Homo sapiens: one gene and its partner. The protein of the gene in region 1 purifies or fractionates together with the protein of each later gene. This does not show direct contact. Each region holds a gene or a part of one and is shown in the gene's direction. Other genes may lie near its edges.

Region 1 (3,744 bases):
GGGCTCACCTGGGTTCAGGTGAGATGCAGGTTATAGAGAGGACACTAGGGAATCCTCCATTCCGTCCAGAGGGAACCAGAGGGGCTGATCAAACCAGCAGTCACAGGGGCCGTTGTGAGGTCAGTGGCCTTGGACGCAGGTCAGTCTTCCAGAGGGTCCTGGCTGCTTTTCCTCACATTCTTTACACTGTGAGCCCCTGGAAGCTCATGCTCATCCTGGGGGCCCCATGGAAGCCAGATGTACCCCCGACTGGATTCAGGCACCCAGCTCCTGCCCGGCTCTGTCAGCTCCTGTAGGGGCTGGAGTGTTGGTGGACTGAGTCCCAGAAGGACATGTGGGGCGGGGGAATCCCATTATCTGCCCTGGAAACATTCTGCCTGTGCTCCCAGGGGTCCCTAGGCCTGCTGCCCCCATAGGCCAGCACCCCCAAACTGCAGACACCCTCTGCAGGGCGGGTCAGCACGGGGCCTCCGTTCCCCTCCTATCCTTCCCTCAGGGTCTTGCCACCTCCACTCCCAGTGCTGGAGAACTCAGGGCTTCTCTGCCCCTGTTCTGTCTATGGAGTGAAGGGCTGAGACCCCTAAAACAAGGAAAGGCGAGTTTGGCCTCCTTGCGGGGTAGGGGGGGCTGTATGTATCTTCCACTCCTCCCTCATGGAGGTGCCCCTCATGGAGAGGCCAGGGGACCTTGAAGCCCTGAAATACAAGCTCAGCAGGGGAGACCCAGGACAGCATATGGGGCCTGGAGGTGTGGGCGGTGGGTGCTGCAGGCCCCAGCCTCGCCCTCGCTGGTCTCTGCCTGCAGGCGTGAACGATGGTGACATGCGGCTGGCCGATGGGGGCGCCACCAACCAGGGCCGCGTGGAGATCTTCTACAGAGGCCAGTGGGGCACTGTGTGTGACAACCTGTGGGACCTGACTGATGCCAGCGTCGTCTGCCGGGCCCTGGGCTTCGAGAACGCCACCCAGGCTCTGGGCAGAGCTGCCTTCGGGCAAGGTAGGGCCTGCTGTCCCCTTCCACTGAGGCTGAGACCCACAGCACAGCCAGCTCCCAGGAGGGGCAAATCCCCTAAGACGAAACAGTCAGGTTTCAAAGACATGCAAATTGGATTCCTATTAATTTAGCAAGAGCAAACACTTTTTTTTTTTTTTTTTTTTTTTTTTTTTTTTGAGATGGAGTCTCGCTCTGTTGCCCAGGCTGGAGTGCAGTGGCACAATCTCGGCTCACTGCAACCTCCGCCTCCTGAGTTCAAGTGATTCTCCTGTCTCAGCCTTCTGAGTAGCTGGGATTACAGGTACCTGCCACCATGCCCGGCTGATTTTTGTATTTTTTAGTAGAGACAGAGTTTCACCATGTTGGCCAGGCTGGTTTTTAAACTTCCGGTGTCAAGTGATCCGCCCGCCTCAGCCTCCCAAAGTGCTGGGATTACCACACCCGGCCTATGAGCAAACATTTTCAATGGTGCTGAAGGCCTGCGGATCAAGTTCTGATGGGACTGCTCCACCCACACTTGGCCAGTGATGGTGGCGGGTGCTTGGGCAGGTTCAAGAGCTCGGCTGGGCTCGTTCCCTCCGGCCCAGAAACTCCACTCCAGGGAGTTTATCCCATTGAAACAATTTCTCCTCAAAAGAAAAGTCTGCAGGAAGATTTCCACTGACACAGCAGTTGCGATTCTGGAAAAAAAAGAAACAATCCATAAACTATTTAGCAGCAGGGATAGTCACACAATTACAGTATGTGAACCTGATGTTGCAGGGATAGTCACACAATTACAATATGTGAACCTGATGTTGCAGGGATAGTCACACAATTACAGTATGTGAACCTGATGTTGCAGGGATAGTCACACAATTACAGTATGTGAAACTGATGTTGCAGGGATAGTCACACAATTACTATACATGAATGTGATGTCGCTGAAGCAGCCGGTAAGCTTTATAAGCATGAAGGCTAAGTTTATGGCCTGACATTGCAATCACAAATCCAGCCCATGCTGGAATATCCTCCGTGGTTCGCTGGTGAAGGACCTGTAAGCAGATGGACCCACACGGCCGGGGCGGAGAACAAAGGGCTGAGTCGCGCTGTGGGACTCCTGGGTGCAGTCGTCACGCCCCCAGCCCTGCCATCTGCTGTGTCCACAGGATCAGGCCCCATCATGCTGGATGAGGTCCAGTGCACGGGAACCGAGGCCTCACTGGCCGACTGCAAGTCCCTGGGCTGGCTGAAGAGCAACTGCAGGCACGAGAGAGACGCTGGTGTGGTCTGCACCAATGGTGAGCGGGGGCGCACCTCCCTGCGGAGGCCCCAGTGTGCCCTGGGGTCCCGTGGCCCCTGCCCCTCCCAGCACCACCCCCCCACGCACATGAAGCACACAAAGGTTCCTTCCACTACCGCCTGCCCACTCCGCATGGAGAGGCCCAGACGTCCCAAGAGCCCACCAGCTCCCAGTCCCACAGTCCCAGACTCCTCCCCAGCCCCTTCTGGAGAAACACCCAGAACCACCAAGTCTCCATGCAGAACCCGAGTGTGGGGCAGTGAGCCACAGTTTCAGTGAGCATGACACCTGGCTCCAGCCTGACCTGAAATGCCAGCGTCCGCTCAGAAATACACTTCACAGCACGCGACAGGCTCAAGCCCGTCCTGGCGGAGGGAGTCCCGGCTACTCGCAGCCTCAGCCTGCTTCCCCCAACCTGGCCCAGTTTGGAGGGAACCCAGGCTGCTCTGCAGGTTGGAGCCTCTGGATCTGAGTTTCTTGTTTTTCTTTCATGCCGAGGTGGCTCTTCCTGGGCTTGCACGTGACAACCTGGGCATTTCCTGCCCACTGCCCTTTGCCAGGAGTTGGAGGCCCCTAAGGCAGGACGGGTCGAATCCCAGGGAGCCCCTGTGCCCACATGGGATGGACAAGTGGCTGGAGCTGAGCCTGGACTCACAGTGGGGGAAGCCCAGGAGACGCCATGGGGCTGTCGGGGGCCAGGGGAGGCGGCGGGGAGCACACGGGGCCATGGGCGCACGGCCAAAGCTCCTGGGGCAGGAGAGCTGTGGTAAGGCGTGCAGGTGGGAGGGAGCTGGGGGTCCTGCGGTGGCTCAGGTTTTAGGAGGCCCAGGGCAAGCCCACCTGGTTGAAAGGTCACAGTTACTTCAAAACTACTATATTTGTGGCGAAGAAAAACCTATGGGATTTCATTTTGAGTTAGGCTTTGAGAGGGGCTCAAAGAAGGGGAGAGGGTGCACCACACTGACCCCCGAGCCGGGAGCCTCCCATGACTTCTGCAGGCCTTCTCCCCGACAGGAAGCTGCTCGAGGACCCCCGGAGTTCTAAAATGGGGTTGCCACAGGACCCTAACTTTTCAGGCCATCTAAGCAGGCAGTGGTTTTGGTGTTAGTGGTGATTGGTGACCAAGGCTGGGGAGTGGGGGCTCCGGAGTCAGTACCACCAAGTCTCCATGCGGAGCTGCTGCCTGAGTCGGGGGAGCAGCACAGAGCAGAGGGCCTAAAGCGGGGGCCTGGACAGGCTTGGCCAGGTCCTAGCTGCTCTTGTTCCCCAGGGCTGGAAGGGGCGGGGCCTCAGGGTCCAGGAATCCGACACTTCCGGTCTCTCTTGTCCCTCGTCTTCCCAGGAGCCTTCCAGAGTGAATGAGGCAGCCACAAATCCCTCACTTTCAGATGAAGACACTGACCCCAGAGAGTGGCAGTGCCCCGGCTCCTAACGCAGCCCACTTCCCTCCCGCCCCTTCTTAGAAACCA
Region 2 (3,744 bases), on another chromosome or scaffold:
TGGCTTTAGATCCATAATGCTTCATTGCTTCATTTTCCTGTCTTGGGGCTGCACGGCGCTGCCGTCCACCCCACAGGGGATGCTGGCTCTGTCCCTCAGCCCTCTCTGGAGCCTTGTGGTGACTGCACGGGCATGGAGACTGCCCAGGTCGGTGTGCAGGACACTAGCTCCTCCCGAGAGCGGACAGCCACATCTTGCTGGGACCAGAGGTGCTTTGCAGCCGGTCTGTGCCTCTAGGGTGTTGAAAAAAGGGGTCGATGGCAGAGCTTCATAAGAATTTGTCCAGTCGGGTGCAGTGGCTCATGCCTGTAATCTCAGCACTTTGGGAAGCTGAGGAGGGAGGATTGTTTGAGCCCACAAGTTCGAGACCCGCCTGGACAATGTAACAAGAGCTCATCTCTTAAAAAAAAAGAAAATTATTTTAATTAGCCGGGAATGCCTGTAGTTCCAGCAACTCAGGAGGCTGAGGTGGGAGGGTTGCTTGAGTCCAGGAGGTCAAGGCTGCAGTGAGCCAAGATCGTGCCACTGCACTGCAGTCTGAGCGACAGCAAGACCCTGTCTCTCGAAGAAAAAAAGAAATTAGAAGAAAAAGAACTCATCTTGATGATGAAGCACAAATATGCATCTGTTGTGTGGCACTTTCCTGGCGTGGGCTCCGAGGGGTCCGTCCACCAAGGAGCCCGCGTCCCAGTCTCCACCGTCCAGCTGGCTGGGGGTGTCCCTGCAGGGCACAGGTTGGTAGACGGTGACAGCTTGTGCTGGGCAGACGCAGGAGCAGCGGCCGTGAGTGTCTGGTGTGCTGGGAGGGGCGCTTGCTCTGCAGAGGAAATAGCCACGTCCAGAGAACGTCCTCCATGGCTGTCCTCCGTCCTCCGTGTCACTTGGTGGGCGCTGTCGGGGCCGCGTCCTCCATGGCTGTCCTCCGTCCTCCGTGTCACTCAGGTTTGCTGGGGCTTTCACTCTGCGGCAGCGAATGCTCAACTTCGTCCAGAATATTCAATACTACATGATGTTTGAAGTGATGGAACCGACCTGGCACATCCTGGAGAAAAACCTGAAATCCGTGAGTTTTAGCTCCACAGATAATAACGTTTGAAAGCCACTTTCCTTTCACAGGGAGACAGGAAGTGCAGGAGAGGCAGGGCGAGGGGAGAGGCAGGGAGTGCAGGAGAGGCAGGGAATGCAGGGAGACGCAGGGAGTGCAGGAGAGGCAGGGAGTGCGGGAGAGGCAGGGCGTGCGGGAGAGGCAGGGAATGCGGGAGAGGCAGGGAGTGCAGGGAGACACGGAGTGCAGGAGAGGCAGGGCAAGGGGAGAGGAAGGGATCCCCCAGGGCGGGGCTGCACCCACACTGCTGGCCACACACGGGACCCCTTGCTGCCTGCCGTCCTAGGGGGACTCTGAGCCGTCTTTGCCCCGAGGTTGTCTCTCCCACATTGCGCATCTGAGGCTGAGGGGCCTGAAGGCAGAATCTGTTGGTACCAAATTCCAGAAGCTGCCGCAGCCTCCCTTCCTGTCTTCTGCCTTAAGAAATGAAACCCCTTCGGGGTGTGCCCATCATTTTTTTAGTGGTGTTTGGAAGTTTTCCCCTAAAAGCCCAAGGCCCATTTAAGAGGTAGAAGTGCGTAAACAGGAATGCACAAAGCCAGAACTGAGCACGTGCGCATGCAGGGCCCGTCTGTCAGCCACGTCTTTCTGAGAAGGGGCTTGGCCTGTTCCCCGCAGGCCTCCAACATTGACGACGTCCTTGGCCACCACACAGGCTTCCTGGACACCTGCCTGAAGGACTGCATGCTCACCAACCCCGAGCTGCTGAAGGTCTTCTCCAAGCTCATGTCTGTGTGCGTCATGTTCACCAACTGCATGCAGGTGCGTGGGTGTGGGTAGCACCATCGGGTGGGCAGGCGCGGGTGGGCAGACCATGTCCCGACCGTGGCCGCACGCAGCCTGCTCACGTTTTCCTGCCCTTGTGTTCGTGGAGGAGCCGCTGGGATCTGAGTGTTTCCAGAACTCCTGGTCTTCCTGGCCGGGTGATTCCCTCCTGGAGCCCCTGCCCTGGCAGCGTGGGCAGGGCTGTGTTCCTCCCGAACCATCCCTCAGCCTCTGTGGTGCTGGTCTCTGTCCGGGGCCTTTGCTTATGGCCCTTGCATGCTCTTTTCCTCAGCACTTGAGCTATTTGATTCCGTTAAGGACCTGCAGGCACTAGTCACAAGCAGCTGCCGACTGGCGATGGTGCAGAACCTGCGTGTCTAGTGGCAGAAGCAGGGGTCTGAGAATGAGGCTCTCCAGGCAGTGCCATGGGGAGGGTCCGGAGGAGGGCGAGTGGGGAGGTGGAGGAGGGCATGGCCACTTCAGGGTCCCAAATAGGGAAACACCAAAATAACTGTTCTCAGGAAAATCAGCTGGTCACCGTGGAAGGTAGACCTGGGAATTCTGTCGGCACAGATAAGTCATTTCCCCTGCAGCCTCAGAGATGCTTGTGTACCCCCAGCCGCAGGCTACAACAGAGGTGCGGAGGGTGACGTGCCTGCAGGACTTGTTTTTTCTGCAAAGCATTGTGGTTGTAACTAACAGAAGCATTTCCTTGCGACTCTCCCCCCCTAGAAATTTACACAGAGCATGAAATTAGATGGCGAGCTGGGCGGGCAGACGCTGGAGCACAGCACCGTCCTGGGGCTGCCCGCAGGGGCCGAGGAGCGGGCCCGGAAGGAGCTCGCCAGGAAGGTGCGTGGCCTCCAGGTTTGGCCAGAGAGAGACGCTTCCTCCCGGCTGGGCGGCAGCCTGGGCATCCTGACGCAGGGAGAACAAACCTCCCCCCTTTTACTTCCATCTCCCCTCAGATTGAAGAAAAGACTTAAAATTAGCTTCCAAGCACAAGCACAAGAGCCTCTCACAATCTTCTCAGCTCTCTGGTCCCCACTTCAGCCAGTCGGGCTCGAGGGAACCCCCACAGATCTTCAGAGCGAGCGCTGTGCAGGGCGCCTGGGCGAGGGCAGGGGCCACACCCGCTGTCCCTGCTGAGCTCGGTCCTGAGTTAGAACCGTCAGGCTCTCAGCAGGCACGGACAGGCTGCATGTCCTCGGAGGCATGGCCCTGCGGCGCCGGCTCCGGGGTGGCATGGTGGGGTGGGCAGTCCCGTGTTCACACGCTGGAGCTGGAGCTGGCAGAGAGGAGTTGGGTTTGGAAGCGTGGGGGCCGGAGGTGAGGGACACTGAGAGGCGCCCCGACCTCCTTGCTGAGAAAGCTGCTGGGAAAGCTCGTTCATCTCACCCCAAAGGAGAGTGACCACCTCATCCCACGAGGCCTGGAGTGTTTCTCTGAGTGCTGGGTTCTCAGGAATGTTTTTTGATGTCTTTTTTACCTTGAATCTCCTGAAAACATCATGGAACCCATGTTTTCTATTTAAGAAAAGGGGAAGGGAAAGGACACCGGCCTGCTGGGAACAGTGTGGAGCCAAGAAGGCCCACGGTGGGGGTGGGCATGGCTCACGCACCCCGGCTTTCTTTCCAGCACCTGGCTGAGCACGCAGACACTGTGCAGCTGGTGTCCGGCTTCGAGGCCACCATCAACAAGTTTGACAAGAACTTCTCAGCCCACCTGCTGGACCTCCTGGCCCGGCTGAGCATCTATAGCACCAGTGACTGTGAGCACGGCATGGCCAGCGTCATCTCCAGGTGGGTGGGCGCCACCCCGGCTCAGCCCTTCCTCAGCTCAGTCCAGCGCCTGCCCCTGCCCAGCACCGCCCT

The links.
Region 2: the proteins of LGALS3BP (region 1) and TUBGCP2 purify together in Homo sapiens (affinity purification with mass spectrometry; 4 studies listed by BioGRID and IntAct, with this or other methods). This does not show direct contact.

What each region holds. Positions count from the first base shown.
Region 1 is NC_000017.11:78,973,217-78,976,960, reverse strand, and holds part of LGALS3BP (galectin-3-binding protein precursor), read left to right. Parts: intron 1-804; coding exon 805-996; intron 997-2,141; coding exon 2,142-2,273; intron 2,274-3,738; coding exon 3,739-3,744.
Region 2 is NC_000010.11:133,281,201-133,284,944, reverse strand, and holds part of TUBGCP2 (gamma-tubulin complex component 2), read left to right. Parts: intron 1-942; coding exon 943-1,063; intron 1,064-1,723; coding exon 1,724-1,867; intron 1,868-2,602; coding exon 2,603-2,722; intron 2,723-3,508; coding exon 3,509-3,672; intron 3,673-3,744. UniProt on the Homo sapiens protein: Component of the gamma-tubulin ring complex (gTuRC) which mediates microtubule nucleation.